Regions from separate parts of the Homo sapiens genome. Here regions 1, 2 and 3 are each reported to be linked to region 4. Evidence: microRNA targets listed by miRTarBase, many of them from high-throughput screens and not tested one by one. Region 4 holds a microRNA gene; each other region holds the end of a gene's coding sequence.
Evidence for each region. Region 4 holds the annotated microRNA hsa-miR-4722-3p (ACCUGCCAGCACCUCCCUGCAG, at 4,602-4,623, opposite strand). A microRNA usually pairs through its seed, bases 2 to 8, with sites in the 3' UTR of a target mRNA and lowers its output. Matches are read on the target gene's strand: a 7mer-m8 pairs with bases 2 to 8, a 7mer-A1 pairs with bases 2 to 7 and ends in A, and an 8mer does both.

Region 1 (7,117 bases), not on the chromosome of region 4:
GTCTTGAACTCCTGACCTCATGATCTACCTGCCTTCGTCTCCCAAAGTGCTGGGATTACAGGCATGAGCCACTGTGCCCAGCCCCGTGCCCAGCTATTTTAAAATTTTTTTGTAGAGATGGGGTCTTGCCATGCTGCCCAGGCCGATTTTGAACTCCTGGGCTCAAGAGATTTCTCATGTTGTTCTCCCAAAGTGTTAGGATTACATGCATGAGTCACTGTGCCTGGTCCAGCCTAGAATTCTATACCCAGCTAAAACGATCAAGTATCAGGGCAGAACAAAGTTACTTTCTGGTATACAGTCTTAATTATTTTAACCTTGGTTTGAACCACATGAAGAGAGAAACCCAAAATGAAGCACAGAGGTATTAGGAAACGGGGGACCTAACAGGACAGAGGGTGAACGTAAAGGGGGTCACAGCATCACAGCGCAGCCTCTGCCCAGAGAGCTGCCAGTCCTGGCTGGAACAGGAGGCTGCACAGCAAGCGGCACTCTCTATGGAAAACACCAGAACCAGTGGGGTCTCTGATCCACTTCACCCTTGTAGAAAACTATGGAGATGCTGTGGGAGAACATAGGGAAAGTTAGCAAATGCAAAGAGAAGGCAGGCTGGGTGCAGTGGCTCATGCCTGTAATCCAAGCACTTTGGGAGGCCAAGGCAGGCAGATCACCTGAGGTCAGGAGTTCAAGACCAGCCTGGCCAACATGGTGAAACCCCGTCTCTACTAAAAATATAAAAATTAGCTGGGCGTGGTGGCACGTGCCTATAGTCCCAGCTACTCGGGAGGCTGAGGCAGGAGAATCACTTGAACCTGGTGGGCAGAGGCTGCAGTGAGCCGAGAGATTGCGGCACTGCGCTCCAGCCTGGGCAACAGAGCGAGACTCTGTCTACAAAACAAAGGAAAAGAGAAGCCATTATCAGTGGTAGGAAAACAAAAAGCGATACAAAGAAATAGTCTGCTACTTGACCCAGCAAAGAACATTTAGATAGAGGTCCTAGCTGAAACATTGAATGTTCTTTTTTTTTTTTGAGATGGAGTCTTGCTCTGTCACCAGGCTGGAGTGCAGTGGCGCCAACTTGGCTCACTGCAACCTCCGCCTCCCAGGTTCAAGCGATTCTTCTGCCTCGGCCTCCCGAGTAACTGAGACTACAGGCGATTGCCACCACGCCCAGCTGATTTTTTGTATTTTTAGTAGAGACGGGGTTTCACCATATTAGCCAGGGTAGTCTCGATCTCCTGATCTCGTGATCCGCCCGCCTCGGCCTCCCAAAGTGCTGGGATTACAGGCGTGAGCCACTGCGCTCGGCCTACTGAATGTTCTTTTAACAAAAAATTGCGTCTTGGAAAGGGTAGTGGAAGGAGAGGCAGGTACTGGTCCAGAGTAGGAAGTGCGCAGATGTGAACTCCAGCAGCAGGCAAGAGCAGCGTGAGCTGAAAGGGCACAGGGAGAGTTTGGGGAGTGGGATGGGGGCAGGGAGTGTGCACCACAGCCTTTGGCAACTGGTGACTCTAAGCTGTGGGTGTGGAGACTTTTGACACATTTAATTTCAAAAATAGTGCAGGTGATTCTCCCCTCTGTCCCTGGTGAGTCACGTGAGCCTGGAGGTGTGCAGGTTCCCTGTGGGGCCAGCGTTGGGCCCTACGCAGCGCCTGCACGGCCCATCCACCTCCCAGAGCAGAGCTCCGGCGTTGAGGTGTGCGTGTGTGTCGTCGCACAAAGCCTCTGTGTGCAGGTGTCAGGAGGCACATGGCCTTCCATCACTGTGGCTGGAAGCGCCTGCCACATGTGGTATTGGCTCTCCCTGTACTTAGGGCCTGGCCCCACCTGCCGTGTGGCCCGTGTCCTGCATGGTTAGGAAAAAGGTCTCTTTCGACTTTCTGGCTCAGAAGCTGACTTTAGATGCTAGCTGAGGTTAATGTTTTACTGAATTGGAGAAAGAGAAAGGTCCAGTATCATGGGCCCACCAAGAATGTTTCCAGAAGCCACAGAGATTTGTAGCTGGGATATGGGGAGAAGCCTCTGACTCATGGGTTTGTATCGTCTGGTCCCATACTGGCTGTGTGATTGCGGGGTCGAGCTGGGTAGAACCTAGCACCTGCATCCACACGCTGAGTGCCACCATCCAGACACTTAGCTGCTTGTGGGGACTGAACGTTGAGATCTTCGTGAGTCTGTAGTCTCCACAGGCCAAGCTCCTGCTTGCAGGTGCATCCTTGGGGGAACTTCACGGCTTGCTCTTTCCTCCTCCGCCTCTAGGCATTGAAGTTGATATCGATGTGGAGCACGGAGGGAAAAGAAGCCGCCTGACCCCCGTCTCTCCAGAGAGTTCCAGCACAGAGGAGAAGAGCAGCTCACAGCCAAGCAGCTGCTGCTCTGACCCCAGCAAGCCGGGTGGGAATGTTGAGGGCGCCACGCAGTCTCTGGCGGAGCAGATGAGGAAGATCGCCTTGGAGTCCGAGGGGCGCCCTGAGGCAAGCCTGTGCCCCTCCCGCCACCTGGGACCACGGCCAGCCTAGTGATCTGTGGCCTGCACCTCCGCCTCATCCTCAGCACCTCTGCAGCCCCACTTACAAACCCGAGGGAGCTGCTGCTGCTGCAGTGATGTCTGTGCCATTAAAGTCACGCTGGGAACCTGCTAGAACTTTGTAGTTACTTGGTCTTTGTGAGTGGCCACTGTTCCCCCTAGACCCCTGCAGCCTTAACTGCACGTGTGCATGCGTGCTCCCCGACTGTCTGCCAGGAGCCAGGGCCATGGTCAGGCTTGGCCTGTTGCGCGTGTCTCCTGTGTGCTCATGGTGAGTTTTGTTCCAGGAACAGATGGAGTCGGATAACTGTTCAGGAGGAGATGATGACTGGACCCATCTGTCTTCAAAAGAAGTGGACCCGTCTACAGGTGAACTCCAGTCCCTACAGATGCCAGAATCCGAAGGGCCAAGCTCTCTGGACCCCTCCCAGGAGGGACCCACAGGGCTGAAGGAAGCTGCCTTGTACCCACATCTCCCGCCAGGCAAGTGAACCAAGAGGTTTTGTACATATTCCTACCTTTCCCTTTAGAGCATCCTGCCCTCCTCTGATTTCAGCGACACAAACAGAAGGATGAGATGTTCTCCACTGCAGGGCTGTCTGTAGGTGTGGGAGGTTAGGAGTTGGTTTTGTCCTATTATGTGTACCCTGAGCAATAGCGAGTAAGCTCTGCTAATGCAGTTCTGAAAATGTTTTTCTTTAGGCAAACTCCAGAGCCAGGAATATTAATTGTAGGAGTTTCTAAAACTTAACATGCAGACCAGGAATTAAGGCAGGTGTGACACAGAGAGGGGGCAGCACTGGGTGTGTCCCTACTACTCACACTCAAGTGCCGCCTCAGGGAGTGCTGGTCTGAGAGGGGGGGGGGTCATAGCCAAGATCCCTGTAGGAGCCAGGCAGAAGCCACCGTTGAAGTGGATGGTGTGGCAGGCAGCAGTGGGGGGGTGGGGGGTGGGGACAGCTGACAGAAACTCCTCATTGTCACATGGCAGCCGTGTGTAAACCAAGGTCCGTGTGCACAACCTGCTGTGGGCCGCCGCTGTGTGTCTTCTCTGCCTTAGGGCAGGGGATGGCGAGCTATGGCCTATGGGCCAAGAGTAGTTCTTATTTTTGTTTATTTATTTATTTATTTTTATTGATCATTCTTGGGTGTTTCTCGCAGAGGGGGATTTGGCAGGGTCATAGGACAATAGTGGAGGGAAGGTCAGCAGATAAACAAGTGAACAAAGGTCTCTGGTTTTCCTAGGCAGAGGACCCTGCGGCCTTCCGCAGCGTTTGTGTCCCTGGGTACTTGAGATTAGGGAGTGGTGATGACTCTTAAGGAGCATGCTGCCTTCAAGCATCTGTTTAACAAAGCACATCTTGCACCGCCCTTAATCCATTTAACCCTGAGTGGACACAGCACATGTTTCAGAGAGCACGGGGTTGGGGGTAAGGTCACAGATCAACAGGATAAGAATTTTTCTTAGTACAGAACAAAATGAAAAGTCTCCCATGTCTACTTCTTTCCACACAGACACGGCAACCATCCGATTTCTCAATCTTTTCCCCACCTTTCCCCGCTTTCTATTCCACAAAGCCGCCATTGTCATCATGGCCCGTTCTCAATGAGCTGTTGGGTACACCTCCCAGACGGGGTGGTGGCCGGGCAGAGGGGCTCCTCACTTCCCAGTAGGGGCGGCCGGGCAGAGGCGCCCCTCACATCCCGGACGGGGTGGCTGCCGGGCGGAGGGTCTCCTCACTTCTCAGACGGGGCGGCCGGGCAGAGACGCTCCTCACCTCCCGGATGGGGTCGCGGCCAGGCAGAGGCGCTCCTCACATCCCAGACAGGGCGGCGGGGCAGAGGCGCTCCCCACATCTCAGACGATGGGTGGCCGGGCAGAGACGCTCCTCACTTTCCAGACTGGGCAGCCAGGCAGAGGGGCTCCTCACATTCCAGACGATGGGCGGCCAGGCAGAGACGCTCCTCACTTCCCAGACGGGGTGGCGGCCGGGCAGAGGCTGCAATCTCGGCACTTTGGGAGGCTAAGGCAGGCAGCTGGGAGGTGGAGGTTGTAGCGAGCCGAGATCACGCCACTGCACTCCAGCCTGGGCACCATTGAGCACTGAGTGAACCAGACTCCGTCTGCAATCCCGGCACCTCGGGAGGCCGAGGCTGGCGGATCACTCGTGGTTAGGAGCTGGAGACCAGCCCGGCCAACACAGCGAAACCCCGTCTCCACCAAAAAAACACGAAAACCAGTCAGTCGTGGCGGCGCGCACCTGCAATCGCAGGCACTCGGCAGGCTGAGGCAAGAGAATCAGGCAGGGAGGTTGCAGTGAGCCGAGATGGCAGCAGTACAGTCCAGCTTTGGCTCGGCATCAGAGGGAGACCGTGGAGAAAGAGGGAGAGGGAAAGCTATATCATTCTTATGTCTTTGCATCATCATAGCTTAGCATCTACTCATAAGTGAGAACATATGATATTTGGTATCCATTCCTGAATTACTTTACTTAGGATAATGGCCTCCAGCTCCGTCCAAGTTGCTGCAAAAGGTATTATTTCGTTCCTTTTTGTGGCTGAGTAGTATTCCATGGTGTATATATACCACATTTTCTTTATCCACTCATTGCTTGATGGGCAGTTAGGTTGGTTCCACATCTTTGCAATTGTGAGTTGTGCTGCTCCAGATATCATCTTTAACTCCTTTGCCTTCTCCACATACATTTCCAAGTCCTGTTCATTCTACCTCCAAAATGTATCTTGTATCCATTCATCTCTCTCCATCTTCAATCTATTTCAATGCCCCATCATCTCTTGCATGGAGGAGTGTAATAATTGGCTAACTGGCCTGTTCTTACATTTTAAAATCAAAAGATGTGACAGGTGAAATGCCTATTTCAGTGTCCATTGATGGTTCTGCTTACACACCACCTGGCTGCCTGGTGTCGCAGTGGCAGAGTTGAGCAGTGTGAAAAAGACTGCTTGGCCCTTTACAGGGAAAGCAGGTCCACTGTGGCCTGTGAGGACGAGAGCTCTGGGCAGGCTCGGACACTGGCAGACCCTGGTCCTGGCTGGCCAAGGCAGCAGGGTATGTGTTTCGGGTCACTCACAGGGCTCAGCACCACTCCTCATGGCTTCCTTACTGTTTCGGCAGAGGCTGACCCGCGGCTGATTGAGTCCCTCTCCCAGATGCTGTCCATGGGCTTCTCTGATGAAGGCGGCTGGCTCACCAGGCTCCTGCAGACCAAGAACTATGACATCGGAGCGGCTCTGGACACCATCCAGTATTCAAAGCATCCCCCGCCGTTGTGACCACTTTTGCCCACCTCTTCTGCGTGCCCCTCTTCTGTCTCATAGTTGTGTTAAGCTTGCGTAGAATTGCAGGTCTCTGTACGGGCCAGTTTCTCTGCCTTCTTCCAGGATCAGGGGTTAGGGTGCAAGAAGCCATTTAGGGCAGCAAAACAAGTGACATGAAGGGAGGGTCCCTGTGTGTGTGTGTGCTGATGTTTCCTGGGTGCCCTGGCTCCTTGCAGCAGGGCTGGGCCTGCGAGACCCAAGGCTCACTGCAGCGCGCTCCTGACCCCTCCCTGCAGGGGCTACGTTAGCAGCCCAGCACATAGCTTGCCTAATGGCTTTCACTTTCTCTTTTGTTTTAAATGACTCATAGGTCCCTGACATTTAGTTGATTATTTTCTGCTACAGACCTGGTACACTCTGATTTTAGATAAAGTAAGCCTAGGTGTTGTCAGCAGGCAGGCTGGGGAGGCCAGTGTTGTGGGCTTCCTGCTGGGACTGAGAAGGCTCACGAAGGGCATCCGCAATGTTGGTTTCACTGAGAGCTGCCTCCTGGTCTCTTCACCACTGTAGTTCTCTCATTTCCAAACCATCAGCTGCTTTTAAAATAAGATCTCTTTGTAGCCATCCTGTTAAATTTGTAAACAATCTAATTAAATGGCATCAGCACTTTAACCAATGACGTTTGCATAGAGAGAAATGATTGACAGTAAGTTTATTGTTAATGGTTCTTACAGAGTATCTTTAAAAGTGCCTTAGGGGAACCCTGTCCCTCCTAACAAGTGTATCTCGATTAATAACCTGCCAGTCCCAGATCACACATCATCATCGAAGTCTTCCCCAGTTATAAAGAGGTCACATAGTCGTGTGGGTCGAGGATTCTGTGCCTCCAGGACCAGGGGCCCACCCTCTGCCCAGGGAGTCCTTGCGTCCCATGAGGTCTTCCCGCAAGGCCTCTCAGACCCAGATGTGACGGGGTGTGTGGCCCGAGGAAGCTGGACAGCGGCAGTGGGCCTGCTGAGGCCTTCTCTTGAGGCCTGTGCTCTGGGGGTCCCTTGCTTAGCCTGTGCTGGACCAGCTGGCCTGGGGTCCCTCTGAAGAGACCTTGGCTGCTCACTGTCCACATGTGAACTTTTTCTAGGTGGCAGGACAAATTGCGCCCATTTAGAGGATGTGGCTGTAACCTGCTGGATGGGACTCCATAGCTCCTTCCCAGGACCCCTCAGCTCCCCGGCACTGCAGTCTGCAGAGTTCTCCTGGAGGCAGGGGCTGCTGCCTTGTTTCACCTTCCATGTCAGGCCAGCCTGTCCCTGA
Region 2 (7,118 bases), not on the chromosome of region 4:
AAGTCAAAGGATAAAGATTAAGTGATTGACTTTGATATTGAAATGGTTTAAATTCTAGCAGAAAAGGTTGTTGAAAGTCCAGATTTTTCCAAGGATGAGGACTACTTAGGAAAGGTTGGAATGTTAAATGGAGGCCGCCGAATTGACTACGTTCTCCAAGAAAAACCAATAGAGAGTTTTAATGAATACCTTTTCGCTCTTCAGAGTCACTTATGCTATTGGTAAGTGTTCTTAAATTTGGTAACATTTGAGTGGGCTTTTGGTGCTAGCACGTGCAGCAATTTTAGTTTTAGTGAGATTCTTTTACTGATACAATGTACTATGAATATTCATTTGAATTACTATATGTTCAGAATCGTTATTTTTCCCCCTTAGTTACCCACAAGATGGCAGTATGTCATCTGCTTTTGACCAAAGACCCTTGGTTCTTGCACACTGTTTTTGTGGGAATGCCTTTCACAGTGGGAGTGGTAGGGACTTTGAAATGCCATTCTTTCCTGTATCCCTGTCACCAAGGAGAATTGCAACACAGCTATTTTGGAGCTAATCAGTATTCATCTAGTTTTTAAGGACAGCTCTGAGATTACGCTGCTTTATTTATTACACTGAGATTACATTGCTATCATTTGCCCTTCTTAGATAGAGTTGAATAGAATAGAACCTGCATTTTCAACCATTGTGCATAGAAGTTAATTTCTTCTAATTGTCTCTTAAGTAAATATGCTTTTCCTTTTCATAGGGAATCTGAAGATACTGCTCTGTTACTACTTAAAGAAATTTATCGAACAATGAACATTAGTCCAGAACAGCCCCAGCATTGATCAAACTTCAGTTTTACTGTGTGAGTTTATCCTTATTGAATGTATAAATTCTGAATGTTTGCATTCTCAAATCTGTTGTATGGAGTTGATGTTGACTGATTTTGCTTTTTTCTGTTTCCTCTGAGTTTTTGTCGTCGTTTTTAAAAATTTGCAATAGAGACATTAAGGAAGATAATTGGTTTGTAATTTACATTTCTGATTTATTACAGTCTTCTTTCTAAATTTACATAGAATTTGAGTTATTTTTAGTTTCTTTTTAAAATAGATTCCCAAGAATATCAGTTAGGAATTCCTTTGGTTGCAGGTTCACAGAACCCAGTTTACAATACATTAAACAAATAGAGGTTTATTTTTCTTCCGTAACAAGAAGGGTTCTTCTGTTGAGTGACTCCACCAGATACCCAGAGTGCTTGCCTCTTCCCACCTGAATGTTGGCTCTTGCTGCCTCATAGTTATAAGGTGCCCCCATGGTTGCAGATACCATATCTACATTCACAACATGAATAAGAGGGGAGAGGGTAGTACTCCTCACATCTGTCGCTCTTAATTAGGGAAGCAGAAGCTTGTCCAAAAATTTACTCATACCTATTGACTAGGCCTGTGTCTAATGTCCAATATCTCCAGTCTGTATGAAAGATTGTAGAAGTAATGTTTTGAGCATTCCCAATCTTTATAGAGGGAAAGAATAGAGAAGGAGGTTAAGTCTGTGATGGGTCAGCTGACGTGCAGCTCAGCCACACTCTGTATTCCTAACTGTCCTCCTGAGACACCAGATACCTGGTTTTCCTCACTAGATTATGCATTACTTTTAAAAACAAGTAATGTGTTTTTTACAAAGTTAGAAATTTTAAAGGCTTTGAAAGAATCAGACACAAAATGCTGAGCTCTAAATTACTGAAATCAAAGGAAGTTCCTGCCATTTTTGGTTTTCTAATAGTAAGTGGTAAATGAACATTCCCTTCAGCCTCATCTTCTACCTCCTCGTTTTAGAGAGGTAAGTACTTTTAGTAGGGCTTCCTTAGAGAAAGTTTTTTGGCTCCATTTCCAAAATTAAACTTGTAACAAAGTAAAAGAAAACTAAAGTGTAGGCCAGGCATGGTGTCTCACACCTCTAATCTCATCACTTTGGGAGGCCAAGGCGGGCAGATCACCTGAGGTTAGGAGTTCGAGACCAGCCTGGCCAACATAGTGAAACCCCGTCTGTACTAAAAATACAAAAATTAGTCGGGTGTGGTGGCGGGTGCCTGTAGTTGGGAAATGCAAGGCCAGAAGTGAAAGATGGCTTTCCCATAACTCATCCCCAACCTCCCTGCCTAGAGGCAGCCAGTGTTCCACGTTTTGTGTATCCTTCCAGATATCTGTTAACACATCACACACACTTTTAAGTTTTTCTTTTTTAAAAGACAAAAGAGGCTGGGTGTAGTGGCTCACGCCTGTAATCCCAGCACTTTGGGAGGCCGAGGCAGGTGGATTACTTGAGGTTAGGAGTTCAAGACTAGCCTGGCTAACATGGTGAAACCCTGTCTCTACTAAAAATACAAAAATTAGCCGGGCATGGTAGTAGGTGCCTGTAATCCCAGCAACTCAGGAGGCTGAGGCAGGAGAATCTCTTGAACCCAGGAGTTGGAGGTTGCAGTGAGCTGAGATTGCGCCACTGCACTCCGGCCTGGATGACAGAGTGAGACTCTATCTAAAAAAAAAAAGACAAATGATAGCAAAATTGACACACCGTTATTACCTTTGTGTCTTTGAGATTGTCCCATATCTATCTATCCATCCATTCATCCATCTGTCCGCCCATCCGTCCATTCATCCATCCGTCCAGTATCTGTTGAGCACCTTACTTAAGTGCCAGGTATTATTTTAGGTATTGGGTTTCACAGCAGTGGACCAAAGCCTCTGCCCTCAAGGACCTTTTTTCCTCTAATGGAAGGCAGACAGCACGTGGACAGTTGAAATGAACCACATGGTAAAGACTGAGCAGCTGGACAAGGAGGAGAGGAATTCATTTGGGATGGGTTCAAGTTATTAATGTATATAAGATGGCAAGGGACCCCCTTCACGGGTAAAGTAAAGTGTCATTTGAGCAAGCGAGCCAGGTGGATATCTGGAGGAAGAAGACCACTTCAGGTGGAGAGAAGAATCTGGATCAGAACATGAGAGTGACCTCGTTCTTTTTAGGTATTCCATTGACTATTGCACCATAATCTGTTTAAGCAGTCCCTACTGATGGGCATTGAAGTTATTCTAATCTTTTATTAGTATGAACAGTACTACAGTGATACGTGATATTTTAATAGTTGCATTTCATTCCATTTTATAGTTCTTTTATTAAAATACTTTATTTTACCCCATTGTTGGGTGTTAGATGATTTTCCAAATTTTCTCCATTATAAATAACTCTGATATGTAGTTTTACACACTTTTTGCCAATCTCTGTTTGCTTTGGATACATTCTTAGAAGCAGTGTTCTTATTTCTGAGAATATTGCATATTTTGAAAAGATTTTTGGCTGGGTGCGGTGGCTCATGCCTGTAATCCCAGTTTGAGAGGCCGAGGCGGGCAGATCACTTGAGGTCAGGAGTTCGAGACCAGCCTGGCCAACATAGTGAAACCCCGTCTCTACTAAAAATACAGAAAAATTAGCAGGGTGTGATCTCACCTACTTGGGAGGCCGAGGCAGGAGGATCTCTTAAAACCTGGGAGGTGGAGGTTGCAGTGAGCTGAGATTCCACCACTGCACTCCAGCCTGGGCAACAGCATGCGATTCCGTCTCAAAAAAAAAAAAAAAAAAAAAGCTTTTTGATCCCTACATTTTGCTAAATTGCATTCCAGAAAAGTTGCTCAATTTTCATATTTACCATCAGTATGTAAAGGCCAGTATGCTTGCACTCTTGGAAACACTGGGTATTACTGATTAAAAAATTTTTTTTTGCTAATTTGATAGCCAGAAATAGTTATAATACCGTTTTTACTTACATTTCTATTATTAGTGAAGTTGAGCTCTTTGGGTGTATCTTAACTGGCTGATTATATTTCTTTTGTCAGTTGCCTGTTCATGACCTTTGTGTTTTCTTGGAGGTACGGGGTAGGGTCCTTTTCTTTCTTTATTTTATTTTATTTTATTTTATTTTTTTTAAGACGGAGTCTTGCTTTGTCGCCCAGGCTGTAGTGCAGTGGCGTGATCTCGGCTCACTGCAAGCTCCTCCTCCCGGGTTCATGCCATTCTCTTGCCTTAGCCTCCCGAGTAGCTGGGACTACAGGCGCCCGCTGCTGTGCCCAGCTAATTTTTTGTATTTTTAGTAGAGACGGGGTTTCACTGTGGTCTCGATCTCCTGACCTCGTGATCCGCCCGCCTTGGCCTCCCAAAGTGCTGGGATTACAGGCGTGAGCCACCGTGCCCGGCCAGGGTCCTTTTCTTTCTTATGGATTTATAAATATGATACTTAAGGATATTAACCTTTGTCATTATAAGTATTTTTTCCCAGTTTGAAATTAGCCTTTTATTTTTCCTTATACTTTGGATTTTTTTGGCGGCAGTTTGAGGGGAGCATGTTTTAAAAATACGTAGCCCTACGCTGGGCATGATGGCTCACGCCTGTAATCCCAGCACTTTGGCAGGCCGAGGTGGACGGATCACCTGAGGTCAGGAGGTTGAGACCAGCCTGGCCAACATGGAGAAACCCCATCTCTATTAAAAATACAGAAATTAGATGGGTGTGGTGGCTGGCACCTATAATCCCAGCTACTTGGGATGCTGAGGCAGGAGAATTGCTTGAACCCAGGAGGCGGAGGTTGCAGTGACCCTAGATTGTGCCACTGCACTCCCACCTGGATGACAGAGCGAGACTCCGTCTAAAAAAAAAAAACAAAAAAACAAAAAACATAGCCCAGTCTTTTATGATTAATTATTTTTTAGATATTTACATTTATTTTCTTTTTAGTTCTTTTTTTCCCCATTTGGCTTTGTAATTTAGAAGAGTAAGGTGTAGAGAACAATTTAACTTTTTTCTTACATAATCGTTTCTGTCTGTGCCATATATTGAATAATGTACCCTTTTGTCATTGGTTTGATATTTTTATCATATGCCAAATATTTTGCTGTTGTTTGACATTTTAATTAATATTTGTTTCCTAGGCTTTCTCATCTCTTCTGGTGATTTATTTGTCTATGATACTTCATTGATTTCAAGCCATTTATTTTCCACATTTTAACATATTTAAATTTGTAATGCATCTTAAAATCTGCTGTTGGGGCTGGTGCAGTGGCTCATACCTGTAATCCCAGCGCTGTGGGAGGATTACTTGAGCCCAGGAGTTTGAGACCAGCCTGGGCAACATAGTGAAACCTCGTCTCTTAAAAAAAAAAAAAAAAAAAATTTAAGTCAGCTGTTGCCTTAACGGAAGTTGAGTTCTTTCTGAGAAGCTGTGCATTCTCTTCTGCTGGTCACTGGGGGAGGGGCTTTACCAACTTGCCTCTGCTTAAGCTAATTTCTCTGCTTGGGATTTTTTAGGATGATGCTGGTAGTGTGATTTCAGCCCCCAAAATTTGCAGGGATGGGGTTGTCAGTTCAGATATTGGAGTTTTTGTTCCCTCTTTCCATTGTCAAGGAAGAGGTGCGCAGGCCTCTTTGCCATCCCTTCTGCATGTAGTTGCTTGCTTTTATCCCTCATTGAGACTATAGATGTTTAGTCCCCCACTTTTTGTGAGGGGTTCTCCTTTGAGACTCCCTTTCTGGGCATCTTTTTATGGTACATAACAGTGAAGTGTCACAATCAACAGTGTCTTAGATTTGGTGAAATATGGTGTTTTAATAATTGTAATTTTTTACATAATATCTGGCAGTAGAAGTTCTCAGTATACCATAGTCTTTGCAGTTATCCCGAATGAAGTTCGAAATAATTTAAGTTCCCCTGACGCTCTCTCCCCTAACAAAACAAAGCAAGACAAACAAAACCAAAAGAATAGTAATTCTAGGATTTTGCCATCACCTTATATGGAAAACTCAGAACCTTCTATTTCACATATGATTCGTTCACTATAATTGTTTTATTTACTTCTTCTTACACTTGGCTGTAAAATTTAGGCAAGAATTTAAGTTTCTAATACTATACTAATGTCATAAGATAATCCATTTAAAATGTTAACAATTATTCTATACATAGTTCATTCAAGCTTAGATCAGTTTTGCTGAATGGTTGTTTTATGTTCATGTCCTTTTAGACCTTTTTAGGATTGTTCTTTGAAAAGCCTCAAATTGGCCAGGTGTGGTGGCTTACACCTGTAATCTTAGCACTTTGGAGGCTGAGGCAGGCAGATCGCTTGAGCTCAGGAGTTCGAGACCAGCTTAGCAACATAGACAAGACATTACTTGTCTCTACTAAAAGTAAAAAAAAAAAAATCACTGGGGCATGATGGTGTGCACCTGTAGTCCCAGCAACTTGGGAGGCTGAGGTGGGAGGATTGCTGGAGTTCGGGAGATTGAGGCTGCAGTGAGCTGTGATCGTACCACTGCACTCCAGCCTGGATTATAGAGTGAGACCCTGTCTCAAAAATAAATAATTAAATAAAAAATAAAAAAGCCTCAAATTAACATGGCAGATAACTAACTTTATTTTTTATTAATATTTTAGCTGGTCACGGTGGCTCATGCCTGTAATCCCAGCACTTTGGGAGGCCAAGGCGGATCACAAGGTCAGGAGTTCGAGACCAGCCTGGCCAAATAGTGAAATCTTGTCTCTACTAAAAATACAAAAATTAGCCGGGCGTGGTAGCACACACCTGTAGTCCCAGCTACTTGGGAGGCTGAGGCAGGAGAATCTTTTGAACCTGGGAGACTGAGGGTGCAGTGAGCTGAGATCGTGCCATTGCACTCCTGCCTGGGCGACAGGGCGAGACTCTGTCTCAAAGAAAAAAAATAAAATAAAATATTTTAATTTTTTGAGAAGGGGTCTCACTCTGTCACCCAGCTTGTGTGAGTGCAGTGGCGCAATCTTGGCTCACTGCAACCTCTGACTCCCAGGCTCAAGCGATCCTCCTAACTTAGCATCTCGAGAGGCTGGGACCACAGGTGTGCACCACCACGTCTGGCTAATTTTTTTATTTTTTGGTAGAGACAGGGTTCCCCCAAGTTGCCCAGGCTGGTCTCGAACTTCTGAGCTGAGATGATCCACTTGCCTCGGCCTCCCACAGTGCTGGGATTACAGGCGTGAGCCACAACACTTGGCCATAACTAACTTTAAATTGTGTCTTTTACTCTCTGTACTGGCTTTGCTATGAAGAAATCATGCTGGTTA
Region 3 (7,097 bases), not on the chromosome of region 4:
ATAAGAACTCACCAATCAACTATCTGCTGTCTTCAGGAGACTCAGCTAATACATAAGGACCCAAATAAACTTAAAGGGGTGGAAAAAGGCATTTCATGCAAATGGACACCCAAAGCAAGCAGGGGTAGCTATTCTTATACCAGACAAAACCAACTTTAAAGCAACAGTGATTAAAAGAGACAAAAAGGGACATTATGTAATGGTAAATGGCCTGGTCCAACAGAAAAACATCACAATCCTAAACATATATGCACCTAACACTGGAGCTCCCAAATTTATAAAACAGTTACTAATAGACCTAAGAAACAAGATAGACAGCAACACTGTAATAGTGGCAAACTTCAATACTCCACTGACAGCACTAGACAGGTCATCAAGACAGAAAGACAACAAAGAAACAATGGATTTAAACTATACCCTGGAACAAATGGACTTAACAGATATTAGAAAACATTTCATCCAACAACCGCAGAACACACATTCTACTCAACAGTGCATGGAACTTTCTCCAAGATAGATCATATGATAGGCCATAAAATAAGCCTCAATAAATTTAAGAAAATTGAAATTATATCAAGCACTCTCTCAGACCACAGTGGAATAAAACTGGAAATCAACTCCCAAAGGAACGTTCAAAACCATGCAAATTCATGGAAATTAAATAATCTGCTCCTGAATGAGCACTGGGGCAAAAACAAAATCAATATAGAAATAAAAAAATTCTTCAAACTGAGTGACAATAATGACACAACCTATCAAAACCTCTGGGATACAGCTAAGGTGATGAAGAGGAAACTTCACAGCCCTAAATGCCTACATCAAAAGGTCTGAAAGCAAAAACGGAAAATCTAAGGTCACAACTCAAGGAACTAGAGAAACAAGAACAAACCAAACCGAAACCCAACAGAAAAAAAGGAAATAACCAAGATCAGAGCAGAACTAAATAAAATTCAAACAAAAAAATACAAAAGTAAATGAAACAAAAAGTGCTTATTTGAAAAGATAAATAAAACTGATAGACCATTAGCAAGATTAACCAAGAAGAGAGAAAATCCAAATAACCTCACTGAGAAATGAAACAGGAGATATAATAACTGACACCACTGAAATACAAAGAATCATTCAAGACTACTATGAACACCTTTACACACATAAACTAGAAAACCTAGAAGAGATGAATAAATTCCTGGAAAGATACAACCCTCCTAGCTTAAATCAGGAGGCATTAGATACCCTGAACAGACCAAAAACAAGCAGTGAGATTAAAATGGTAATTTAAAAATTACCAACAAAAAAAGTCCAGGACCAGATGGATTCACAGCAGAATTCTACCAGATATTCAAAGAATTACTACCAATTCTTTTGACACTATTCCACAAGACAGAGAAAGGAGGAACCCTCCCTAATTCATTCTATGAGGTCAGCATCACCCTAATACCAAAACCAGGAAAAGACACGACCAAAGAAGAAAACTACAGACCAATATCCTTGATAAACATTGATGCTAATATCCTTAACAAAATACTAGCTAACAATATCCAAAAACATGTCGAAAAGAATATCCAACAACATGTCGAAAAGATAATCCACCATGATCAAGCTGATTTCATACCAGGTATGCAGGGATGGTTTAACACACACAAGTCAAGAAATGTGATACACCACATAAATAGAATTGAAAACAAAAATCACATGATCATCTGAATAGATGCAGAAAAAAAAATTGACAATATTTAGCATCCCTTTATGATTAAACCTCTCAGCAAAGTTGGCATACAAGGGACACAGCTTAATGTAATAAATAAAAGCTATCTATGACAAGCCCACAGCCAACATAATACTGAATAGAAAAAAGTTGAAAGCATTTCCTTTGAGAACGGGAACAAGACAAGGATGCCCACTCTCACTACTCCTCTTCAACATAGCCCTGGAAGTCCTAGCCAGAGCAATCAGACAAGAGAAAGAAATGAAGGGCATCCAAATCAGTAAACAGGAAGTCATACTGTCCGCTTGCTGATGATGTGATCATTTACCTTGAAAACCCTCAGGACTCCTCCAGAAAGCTCCTAGAACTGATAAAACAATTCAGCAAAGTTTCAGGATACGAGATTAATGTACACAACTCAGTAGCTCTTCTAATAACCAACAGCAACCAAATGGAGAATTAAATCAAGAACTCAACCTCTTTTACAATAGCGGGAAAAAAATTATATGAATATACCTAACGAAGGAGTCGAAAGACCTGTACAAGGAAAACTACAAAACACTGCTGAAACAAATCATAGACAACACAAAGACATGGAAACACATCCCATGCACAAGCATGGGTAGAATAATTTGTGAAAATGACCATACTGCCAAAAGCAATCTATAAATTCAACACAATCCCCATCAAAAAACCACCGTCATTCTTCACAGAGTTAGAAAAAACAATTCTAAAATTCATATAGAACCAAAAAAGAGCCTGCACAGCCAAAGCAAGACTAAGCAAAAAGAACAAATCTGGAGGCACCATACTACCTGATTTCAAACTATACTGTAAGGCCATGGTCACCAAAACAGCATGGTGCTGGTATAAAAATAGGCACATAGACCAATGGAACAGAGAACCCAGAAATAAACCCAAATAATTACAGCCAAGCAATCTTCAAAAAAGCAAACAAAAACATAAAGTGGGGAAGTATACCCTTTCAACAAATGGTTCTGGGATAATTGGCTAGCCACATGTAGAATGAAACTGGATCCTCATCTCTCACCTTATAAAAGAAACCAACTCAAGATGGATTAAGGACTTAAACCTAAGATCAGAAACTATAAAAATTCTGGAAGATAAAATTGGAAAAAAACCCTTCTAGGCATTGGCTAGGCAAAAATTTCATGACCAAAAACCCAAAAGCAAATGCAATAAAAACAAAGATAAATAGCTGGGACCTAGTTAAACTAAAGAGTTTTTGCATGGCAAAAGGAACAGTCAGCAGAGTAAACAGACAACTCACACAGTGGGAGAAAATCTTCACAATCTATACATCTGACAATGGATTAGTATCCAGAATCTACAACAAACTCAATCTATACCTCCGACAAAAGATTAATATCCAGAATCTACAACAAACTCAAGCAAATCAGTAAGGAAAAAAACAATCGCATCAAAAAGTGGGCTAAGGACATGAATAGAAAATTCTCAAAAGAAGATATACAAATGGCCAACAAACATATAAAAAATGGTTACCATCACTAATGATCAAAGAAATGCAAATCAAACCCACAATGCGATACCACCTTATTCCTGCAAGAATAGCCATAATCAAAAGATCAAACAACTAGATGTTGGCATGGATGTGGCAATCAGGGAACACATCTATACTGCTGGTGAGAATGTAAACTGATAGAGCCACCATGGAAAACATATAAATGCATATGGAAAACAGTGTGGAGAGTCTGTAAAGAACTAAAAGTAGAACTAGCATTTGATCCAGCAATCCCACTACTGAGTATCTACCCAGAGAAAAAGAAATGATTATTTGAAAAACGTACTTGCAGATGCATGTTTCTAGCAGCACAATTCACAATTGTAAAATCGTGGAACCAACTGAAATGCCCAGGAATTAACGCGTGGGTAAAGAATCTGTGAAATATATATATGTGTGTGTATATATATATAAATATATAAACACTTAAAATGTATATATACACACACATGCACACACACATACATATATATATGTTGGAATACTACTCAGTAACAAAAAGGAATGAATTAACAGCATTTGCAATGTCCTGGATGAGATTGGAGACTATTATTCTAAGAATGGTAAACCAAATATCGTATGTTCTCACTGATATGTGGGAGGTATGCTATGAGGATGCAAAGACATAAGAATAATACAATGGACTTTGGGTACTTGCGGGGAAGAGTGAAAGGGGAAGGGATAAAATACAGCATATATGGTGCAGTGTATACTGCTTGGGTGATGGATGCACCAGGATCTCACAAATCACCACTAAAGAACTTACTCAACTAACCAAATACCACCTGTACATAAGTAACTTATGGAACAATAAAATTTTAAAAAAGTATTTTTATAATTACAGACAGGCTCACATAATGAATTCTTCATAAACTATTACACAGGCCAGCCGGGCCTGGTACCTCATGCCTGTAATCCCAGCACTTTGGGAGGCCGAGGTGAGTGGATCACCTGAGGTCAAGAGTTGGAGACCAGTTTGACCAACATGGTGAAACCCTGTCTCTACTAAAAATACAAAAATTAGTCCAGGCGAGGCGGCTCACGCCTGTAATCCAGCACTTTGGGAGGCAGAGACGGGTGGATCACGAGGTCAGGAATTTGAGACCAGCCTGACCAAAACGGTGAAACCCCGTCTCTACTAAAAATACAAAAATGAGCCGGGCGTGGTGATGCATGCCTGTAATCTCAGCTACTCAGGAGGCTGAGGCAGGAGAACTGCTTGAACCTGAAAGGCGGAGGTTGCAGTGAGCCCAGATTGCACCATTGCACTCCAGCCCGGGAGAAAGATTAAGACTCTGTCTCAAAAACAAACAAACAACAACAACAACAAACAATTAAGCAAACAAAAAACCTATTAAACAACAACAACAAAAAATTATGGGTCTAGCATGAGTACCAGTCAAGTTAAAACAGAATTTGCATGGGGAGACTCTGAACCATAAGCCAAAAGATTGTACAGCAAGAAATTCAATACAAAGCAGAGTATAAATTTGCTTTCAGCATTTTTGAGAATTTTTGTTTTGTAGTAAATTAGACACCTCCTTAAAATGATTTTGTTCCAATATTGCTTTTTTCTGCTAAAAATAGTTTCGAACTTAAACACACTCCATAATTTATTTACACCTAAGATTCATCTTAGACTAACAGATGTGTATATTTAACTCTATGTAAATCAATACTAACAGTCCATATGTGCTTGCAGGCAGAGGCCACATGTTCGAAGAAAAATATATGAAAAAATTAAAAAAGATTTATTCGGGACTCAGAAATATATGGATTTTACTTATGTTTGTATATAAGTTTTATTATGACCATAAAAATAATCCTGTAGTCAACAACAATTTAATTGTACATTTAAAAATAACTAAAACTGTAGAATTGAATTATTTGTAATACAAAGAATAAATGCTAGAGGTAATGGAGACCGCATTTAGTCTAATGCGATTGTTATATATTGTGTGTCCGTATCAAAATATGCCACATATGGCATAATATGTACACATATTAGGTATCCACAAAAATTAAGTCAAATACATTTAAATGAGAAAATAAAAATAAAAATTTAGCCTATGGGAACAATATTCTTTAACTTAATGGCAATTAAAACTCACTGGCAAAAAAAATCACTAGAGATGTCAGTCCATTATCTTACCAAATAGTGTATTTTTACCATCTTTTACCTACACCCTTGAGTAAGGTGGAATAGGTTAAAGTTACTGGCATAATAACACTTCATTGAATTCATGATAGTATTTAACATGTTAAAACTGTTTGGTTGAAAAGTTCACATGCAATTTATAATTTAAAAATATGCTACATATATTTCATAAAAATACAATAAATCATACTAAACTTTAACTAAAATTAAGAATGTTTTTCTTTCATAATAATGCAGAATATTAATCTGAACATCTACCTCATGCATCACTCGATATTATAAGTTAACCATAAAGATCCTCTCTACTTAAATTTTCATCATGCATCTTACATTTTTAATGTCCTTACCTTTCCATAGAAAAGGTCATAAATAATGCCTCTTCATATTTGTAATGCTTTTTCAAAATACTCTTCTGTACTTTAAAGACATATTTTCTGATCAGTCGTTTGACAGTAATTACACTTCTTATTTAGTATGAACGCTCTGAATTTGAGTACGATGTGAGCAGGTATTAATGGCTTTTTGTCTATATTTGTTCACTTTTTCTCAAGCATAAATGCTTTCCTATGCATTAAGGTGTGAGCATTAGTTCAAAGCTTGGCCACATTGTTCACACTGGTAGTTTTCTCCAGTATGAATTATCTTACCTACGATCAAGTGTGACAATCATTTAGAGGCTTTGTCACATTCTTCACATTTCTAGGATTTCTCAGCAGCATGATTTTCTTGATGTTTAGAAAAGTTTGACTTGTCAAAAGCGTTGGCACATCTTTCAGGTTTGTAGAGTTTCTCTCCAGTATGAATAATATTATGTCTGTTAAGAATTCAGGACTTTTTATAGACTTTACCACATTATTCACACTTGTAAGATTTCTCTCCAATATGAGTTATCTTATCTGTAGTAAGGTGTGAAAACTGGTTAAAGGCTTTGCCAAATTTTTCCTGTTTGTAGGGTTGCTGTCCAGTATGAATTTTCTTATGTCTGGTTAGGGCTGAGGACCAGAAAAAGGATTTGCCACATTCTTCACATTTGTAGAGTTTTACTCCAGTATGAATTACCTTATGTTTAGTAAAGGTTGAAGACCGGTTAAAAGATTTGCCACATTCTTTATATTTGTAGGGTTTCTCTCTAGTATGAATTTTCTTTTTTTTTTTTTTGAGACGGAGTCTCGCTCTGTCGCCCAGGCTTGAGTGCAGTGGCGTGATCTCGGCTCACTGCAAGCTCCGCCTCCCGGGTTCACGCCATTCTCCTGCCTCAGCCTCTCGCATAGCTGGGACTACAGGCGCCCGCCACCACGCCCGGCTAATTTTTTGTATTTTTTAGTAGAGAAGGGGTTTCACTGTGTTAGCCAGGATGGTCTCCATCTCCTGACCTCGTGATCCGCCCGCCTCGGCCTCCCAAAGTAGTGGGATTACAGGTGTGATAGTATGAATTTTCTTATGGTTAGTAAGGATTGAAGACTGGTTAAAGGCTTTGCCACATTTTTCACATTTGTAGGGTTTCTCTCCAGTGTGAATTATCTTATGTTTAGTAAGAGCTGAGGACTCTTTAAAGGCTTTGCCACATTCTCCACATTTGTAGGGTTTCTCTCCGGTGTGCAACCTCTTATGTCTAGTTAGGGTTGAAGATTGGCTAAATGCTTTGCCACATTCTTCACATTTGTAGGGTTTCTCTCTAGTATGAATTCTCT
Region 4 (7,112 bases):
GGAGTCATCTTTGTTGACGGTATGTGGGGCCATTGCTCCTCCTAGTCCCTGGCCACTTGGGGTAAGCCCTGCGGATCCTCCCTCTGGTGTGGACCCTCCCTCTGGTGCCGGTCCTCCCTCTGGTAGGATGTGTTGAGCTACTGGTGCTGCCCCTGCACTGAGGGCCTGGTGGGGACATCTCCCTGAAGGAGGCAGCAGATGTATCCATCGTTAGGTGGCATCACTGTTCCTGGAATCTAAGAACATCCTTAGAAAGTCGGGGGTGGGAGCAGGAGTGGCGGCTGCCCAGCCCCCATCACGGGGTCTGGGGACAAAGAAGGGCAAGTTAAGTGCTGATGGTGAGCGGGGGCCCAGGGGCCGACTCCCCGACCCTTGCTCCTGCAGAACGAACTCCTGGGGTGTTGACTGTAGCGCTGAGGTCAGCCGCAAGAGAGAAACCCCTGCCCAAAGGAAAATGGCCGACACCCCACAGCTCCGCCAGGAAGCACCGCCCTGCGGAGCGAGGCCTCGAAGGGTTTTCCCAGGTGGAGGTGGCCCTGCAGCCTGCCCTGCCTGGCTCCTCTCTGAGCCCTGACTCTTTCTGCCTGGGTTTTTCAGAGGGAGCAGCCTGTGGCCAGAGCCTAGAGGAGAGATCAAAGACCCTGGCCGAAGTGAAGCCCATTCTGCAAGCAACTGGGTTCCCATGGCATGTGGTGGCCTTAGAGGAGGTGGGAGGGCTGTCCCTGGAAAGGGGTCCCGGAGGTGACCCCTGGGGGGCACCTGCCCGTGTCCCAGCCTCACTGGCCTCTCCCTCATCCCAGAAGGCGGGGCTGTCGGTGGGGGGTGGGAGGCACCTGCCCGTGCCCCAGCCTCACTGCCGTCTCCCGCATCCCGGAAGGTGGGGCTGTCTGTGGGGGGCACCTGCCCGTGTCCCGGGCCTCACTGGCGTCTCCCTCATCCCGGAAGGTGTTCAGCCTGCCACCGTCGGTGCTTTGGTGCTCTGCCCAGGAGCTGGTGGGATCCGAGGGGGCCTACAAGGCGGCCGTGGACAGCTTCCTCCAGCAGCAGCATGTGCTGGGGGCCGGGGGTGGTCCTGGCCCGACTCAAGGGGAGGAACAGCCACCCCAGCCCCCGCTGGACCCCCAGAACCTGGCAAGACCGCCTGCCCCTGCCCAGACTGAGGCTCTTTCCCAACTGTTCTGCTCAGTGAGGACACTGACTGCCAAGGAGGAGCTTCTGCAGACCCTGCGGTGAGGCCCCGAGAGCCCCCCTTCCCCGGGCCCTGACCCCCACTCATGCCCCTGAGAGCCCCCTTCCCCGGGCCCTGACCCCCACTCATGCCCCTGAGAGCCCCCCTTCCCCGGGCCCTGACCCCCACTCATGCCCCTGAGAGCCCCCCTTCCCCGGGCCCTGACCCCCACTCATGCCCGAGAGCCCCCTTCCCCGGGCCCTGACCCCCACTCATGCCCCTGAGAGCCCCCCTTCCCCGGGCCCTGACCCCCACTCATACCTGAGAGCCCCCCTTCCCCGGGCCCTGACCCCCACTCATACCCCTGAGAGCCCCCCTTCCCCGGGCCCTGACCCCCACTCATACCCGAGAGCCCCCCTTCCCCGGGTCCTGCACCCCCCAGGCCCCTGAGACGCTCTGTGCTTTAGGACCCACCTGATCCTCCACATGGCCCGAGCCCACGGCTACTCCAAGGTCATGACTGGGGACAGCTGCACACGCTTGGCTATCAAGCTCATGACCAACCTGGCGCTGGGTCGAGGGGCCTTCCTGGCCTGGGATACGGTAGGCAGGGGCCTGGGTGTTCAGGAGGCCCATCCTCACCTTCACCCCTTCGGCCACCTTTACTGGAGAGTAGCCTCTCGCGTATCAGTCCTGCGGCCTCGGATGGTGGTGGGGTCTGTGACCTCCCCTACCTGGCAGGGGAGGAGGGGCAAGCACATTCGGGCCTTGACCTGGACCACACAGCCCCTGCCTCCCGCAGGGCTTCTCGGATGAGCGGCACGGGGACGTGGTGGTGGTGCGGCCCATGCGGGACCACACCCTGAAGGAGGTCGCTTTCTACAACCGCCTGTTCTCCGTTCCTTCTGTCTTCACACCAGCCGTCGACACCAAGGTGGGCCTTGTGGGCTGGGCAACCTCTCTCACCATTGACACCGGGGTGGGCCATGTGGGCTGGGCAGCCTCTCACAGGCTCAGGTCACCAGCACACCTTCAGTGACTCCTGCTGTGGCCCCCAGCAGTGCTGCATCCTCTGAGCCCACCCTGTGCCGTGAGGGTGTGGGGGTGACAGGAGGACCCCACAGTGGGTGCACTGCTGAAGCGGGTTCTCTGGCTGCCTTGAGCAGTCGCAGCAAAGCCAGACCCATGTGGGCCAGCAGCGTGGAACCCACGGCACCTGTCCTGGGGACTCTGCCCCAGCCTGGGGCTGGCCTCTGGGCTTTCCCATAGCCTCCAATCTGATTGTCCCTAGGCCCCTGAAAAGGCCAGCATCCACCGGCTGATGGAGGCCTTCATCCTCAGGCTGCAGACCCAGTTCCCCTCCACTGTCAGCACTGTGTACAGGTGTGGGTGTGTGTGGGTGTGTGCGGGGGGTGCGCGGGTGTGTGCTGTGCGCGGGTGTGTGCGGGTGGTGAGCTCACCACTCGTGCTCAGGCCAGGGCTTAGGGTGGAGCCCCAGCCCGTGTGATTCACCTGCTCCTCCCACAATCCGGCCACAGGACAAGTGAGAAGCTGGTGAAGGGCCCCCGGGATGGCCCTGCTGCTGGCGACTCCGGCCCCCGCTGCCTCCTCTGCATGTGTGCCCTGGACGTCGACGCCGCTGGTCTGTGTTTCATGCTCTTGGGGTGATGCGGGGAGGGAGCCAGGGAGTGGGTGTGGGGGCTCAGCAGCCCCAGGCTCCGTCACCCCCTCTCTGCTTGCAGACAGTGCCACGGCTTTTGGGGCTCAGACCTCCTCGCGTCTCTCCCAGATGCAGTCACCCATCCCCCTGACTGAGACCCGGACACCCCCGGGGCCCTGCTGTTCTCCAGGGGTGGGCTGGGCCCAGCGCTGTGGCCAGGGGGCCTGCAGGAGGTGAGTCCCTGTCCCTGCCACCCATGGCCAGCTGCATGGGGCGGGAGGGGGACCTGTCCTTACCCCACACTGCACGGCATTGAGGTGCCAAGGTGGGCACACAGCCAGCTCTGCTCCCGCAGGGAGGACCCCCAAGCCTGCATTGAGGAGCAGCTGTGCTACAGCTGCCGCGTGAACATGAAGGACTTGGTGAGTACGTGCCCACCTGTCCTGGGCCGGGCTTGGGGACGCGGGAAGGCCGTCACCTCGTGGGTGGCTTGAGGGGGTGCTGGCAGGTTTCTTGGCCCCTCGACACCGGCCTCTGTTGCAGCCCTCACTGGACCCCCTGCCGCCGTACATCCTGGCTGAGGCCCAGCTCCGCACACAGAGGTACTGGGGCCCACACTGCCGTGGCGCGTGGGTAAGGGGCCTCGGGGCTGGTGCCCACTGCAGCTTTCTCTCTAGGGCCTGGGGCTTGCAGGAGATCCGGGACTGTCTGATTGAGGACAGTGACGACGAGGCGGGCCAGAGCTGAGCGTGAGGACGTGCTTGCCGGGACAGCAGGCAGTGGCCACCTGGTACACCACACTGGAGCCGGAAGGCAAGGACGGGGGACTGGCCTCTGATTGTCCATTTGTATAAATAAAACATTTTTTAATTAAAAAAAAAACTCTACAGTACACGTGGGGGACGGCAGCGCCACGCAGGCCGTGGGGACGCAGTGTCCTTCTCTGACAGCAGCATCAGGGCTCAGGCAGGCCGGGAGGATGCATCACAGCTGGCGGCCTTGGACGGGGCAGTGGCTCCCCCGGCCTGAGGAGTGCCGCCCCTTGTGGCCACGCTGCCCAGCAGGCCGGCTCCTTCCCTCTCGGGCGCCAGCAGCAGCTCCTACTCCTTCTCACGAGTCCACTTGATCATGGTCTCCGGTGAGCGGTAGAGGAAGATGAGCTTGGCGTACAACTCCTCCTCCAGCTCCAGCTCCCGAGTCTCCCGCACCAGGAAGATGTCCTGGCAGAGCTTGAGGATGCGGTCCACGCACGGCAGCTCCTCGAACATAATGGAGTGCGAGATCTCGCTGAAGAATCCGCGCACGAACTTGCCGATGACCAGCACGATGGACACGTACAGCCCCATGATGCTGCGGGGGAAGCTGGTGAGTCCTGGGGCCGCCCGGAGCCCCCCGAGCTGCGGGGTGCCCCCCCAGCCACTCACTCACCCGTAGCCAGCCAGGAAGCCGAGGCTCGGTGGGCTGACCTTGTCACTGAAAATGACCATGGGCAGCAGGTTGCAGTCGGTCCGGCACTCCTGCAGCTCGATGACCCACCATTCGAGGAAGCCGGTGGCCCCCGCACCCTGCTCCCTCCGCAGCTGGATACGCACGCCGAGGTAGTCGGCCTCCTCATCTGGGATGGAGGGAGAAGATCGTTGAGGCCGCAGGTCACCCCTCTCTAGCCTCCCCCAACCCCCACGCCCATACTCACTGGGCTGCAGCTGCTTCACAGGGTTGGCTTCGGGCCCGTTGGGGGCACGGATGTACTTGGGGAAGAGATTAGGGATGACCCTGCAGGGAGGTGCTGGCAGGTCAGGCCTGGCCCAGCCAACCTGGCACAGCCCTCCTGCCCACCACCCGGGCCCTTCACTCACACAGACTGGTCCGAGGTGCCCTCGAGCAGGCTGGCCAGCTGCCGCCGTGCAGTGCTGTTGGGGGCCAGGGCCAGCATGTGCTTCTCGTTGGCATACTCCACAGTGCCTCCCTTCGCCAGGTCCCTGGGGGTGGGAACACAGCGTGACCCACTGTAGTGGGTCCACCCACCCAGGCACTGCCCCAAGTCCAGGACGAACCTCTGGAAGTTCCAGGTGAAGCGCAGGGTGATGTCGGCCGTGCCGTTGTAGAGCTCCCGCTTCATCTGGGCACGGCTGGGGGGACTGATGCGCCACAGCGCCCCGGAGCTGCCCTCAATCTGCGCCGTGACGATGTCCTCAGGGCTGTACTGGCTGATGAACTGCATGGCCAGCTGGGTACAAGTGACACCCTCAGTGACTGCAGCCGCCTCCCCACACCAGCTTTCACAGGGCAGAGGCCACTTACCGGCTGGGGGTCAAACTGCCGGGACAGCTCCTCATAGGCCTGGGCCGTGAAGGGGATGATGGACGGCTGCTGGGCGCTCATGGTGAACAGCGGCTGGGGCAGGCACGGGGACACGGGGCCACGAAGATGAGCGTGGAGGAGCGGCTGGGGGTGGTGCACCACCTTGGCCAGAACCCCCAGGGGATGGGAATGGACAGGCGGACCCACACATGCTCACCTCATAGCCGCCCAGCTTCAGGGTGACGGTGACATCGATGGGCTGGTTGACAACCCCAACCACGGAGCGCACCAGCGACATGAAGAGCAGTGGGAACCAGATGATGGCGATGAGGAAGAGGATGATGAGGCCACCCATGCCGTACTTGACGATCTTCTTCTTCTTCTGCCCTTTGGGCTGCGGGTATTTCTGGAGGGGAACGACACAGGTCATACGCTCAGCTCTGCCCTTCCTGCGGGTCACACAACCGCATTCTCCAGCTCACCCAGCAGCCCAGAAAAGCCCCAGCCTGACCTCAGTATGGCACAGCGGTAGTAATGGTGGGCAGACACAGGCCAGTGGAGTAGAACTAAGAGTCCAGTTGGAACCCTCATGTTCAGGGGTCGTTGATCTTAGACAAGGGAGCTGTGACCGTTCAGTGGGAACGGACAACCTTTTTCAACACGGTGCAGGCACCGCCCCAGGCAGGAGAATGAAACGCAACTCCTGCCTCATACCATGTGCCAAAATTTACCTCAAAGTGGATCAAAGAGCGAAACTTCAGAGCTAAAACTATAGAACTTTTAGAAGAAAACGGGCAAATCTTCATGAACCTGGATTTGGCGAAGGAAACAAAGTAAACCAGATATTACCAAAATAAATACTTTGTGCTTCCAAAGACACCAAGAAAATTTAAGAGACAGTCCATAGAATTGGAGAAATTTTCTGCAAATTTTAATTGATAAGGTTCTAGCAACCAGAGAATACAGAGAATTCTTCCAATTCAGTCATTTCTAGCCAATGTATCTGCAGAAAAACAGAAAAAACTCTAATAAAAAACAACCCAACTGCTGGGTGTGGCGGCTCACACTTGTCATCCCAGCACTTTGAGGTCAGGAGTTTGAGACGAACCTGGCCAAAAATACAAAAGACTAGCCAGGCCTGGTGGTGCACACCTGTAGTCCCAGCTACTCGGGAGGCTGAGGTGGGAGAATCGCTTGAACCTGGGAGGCAGAGGCTACAGTGAGTGAAGGTCATGCCACTGCACTTCAGCCTGAGATCCTATCTCAAAAGCCCAACTAAACTATGGAGAAAGGATTTGAATAGACATTTCCCCAGAGAAGATACACAAATGGCCAAGCACATGAAAAGACGCTCAGCGTCGGTCAACAGGGAACTGAGAAGAGCCCACAGCAAGCCACCCGTTCAGCAGCATGGCCAGAACAAAAAAGACATAGTAACAGGTTGTTGAGGATGTGGAGAAACCGCAACCTCGTGTTGGTGGTGGGAACCTTAGATGGTGGAGCTGCTATGGAAAACCAGCAGCTCCTCATGATGGAAACCACCACCAGCACTTCCGGCCCTGGCGTGCAGCCACAGGACCAGGGGCACGGGCACACAGACGTGTACACCGGCGTGCCTGGCAGCATCACGGGCAACAGCCCATCAACAGATGAGCATGTTGTGGTCCATCCATGCCACAGAATATCATTTGCCCATAAACAGGAAGGCCATACTGCCACGTGGGTGGACCTCAGAGACACCATGCTGAGCAAGGAAAGCTGATTACAAAAGGACAAACGCTGTCTGAGCCTGTTTTCATGAAATATCCACTGTAGGCAAATCTCATAGAACCAGGACCTAGACAAGGGGTTACTAGGGGCCAGGGGAGGGGAAACCGAGTGACAGCCAATGGGCACTGGGTTTCTTCTTTTTACTTTTTTAGAGACAGGGTCTCACTCTGTTGCCCAAGCTGGAGTGCAGTGGTGTGATCAGGCTTAATGCAG

Region 1: miRTarBase lists MRNIP as a target of hsa-miR-4722-3p. Seed matches in the 3' UTR shown: 7mer-m8 at 6,604-6,610.
Region 2: the mRNA of SEC23IP is a reported target of hsa-miR-4722-3p. The part of its 3' UTR that is shown has no 7-base or 8-base seed match.
Region 3: the mRNA of ZNF91 is a reported target of hsa-miR-4722-3p. Seed matches in the 3' UTR shown: 7mer-A1 at 6,655-6,661.

Annotation. Positions count from the first base shown.
Region 1 is chr5:179,830,773-179,837,889 of GRCh38, forward strand. It overlaps MRNIP (MRN complex interacting protein), which reads right to left. Exons shown (of 7, transcript NM_016175.4): 7 at 6,504-7,113. The coding sequence ends at 6,619. It overlaps SQSTM1 (sequestosome 1), which reads left to right. Exons shown (of 8, transcript NM_003900.5): 6 at 2,260-2,474; 7 at 2,815-3,010; 8 at 5,664-7,117. The coding sequence ends at 5,821. Among named protein-coding and RNA genes, the nearest start is that of SQSTM1, 13 kb to the left of the region's middle. RefSeq lists enhancers at 5,997-6,291, 6,073-6,222.
Region 2 is chr10:119,932,947-119,940,064 of GRCh38, forward strand. SEC23IP (SEC23 interacting protein) reads left to right here. Exons shown (of 19, transcript NM_007190.4): 17 at 59-221; 18 at 740-841. The coding sequence ends at 821. Among named protein-coding and RNA genes, the nearest start is that of MIR4682, 22 kb to the right of the region's middle. RefSeq lists an enhancer at 1,121-1,290.
Region 3 is chr19:23,352,677-23,359,773 of GRCh38, forward strand. It overlaps ZNF91 (zinc finger protein 91), which reads right to left. Exons shown (of 4, transcript NM_003430.4): 4 at 5,020-7,097. The coding sequence ends at 6,727. Among named protein-coding and RNA genes, the nearest start is that of ZNF91, 39 kb to the right of the region's middle.
Region 4 is chr16:88,711,677-88,718,788 of GRCh38, forward strand. It overlaps MIR4722 (microRNA 4722), which reads right to left and starts at 4,661; the gene lies at 4,602-4,661. CTU2 (cytosolic thiouridylase subunit 2) reads left to right here. Exons shown (of 15, transcript NM_001012759.3): 5 at 1-19; 6 at 598-707; 7 at 946-1,229; 8 at 1,636-1,771; 9 at 1,971-2,102; 10 at 2,460-2,551; 11 at 2,707-2,810; 12 at 2,911-3,061; 13 at 3,184-3,250; 14 at 3,372-3,430; 15 at 3,506-3,720. The coding sequence ends at 3,575. It overlaps PIEZO1 (piezo type mechanosensitive ion channel component 1 (Er blood group)), which reads right to left. Exons shown (of 51, transcript NM_001142864.4): 45 at 5,347-5,535; 46 at 5,130-5,222; 47 at 4,883-5,055; 48 at 4,685-4,807; 49 at 4,522-4,601; 50 at 4,257-4,443; 51 at 3,662-4,178. The coding sequence ends at 3,929.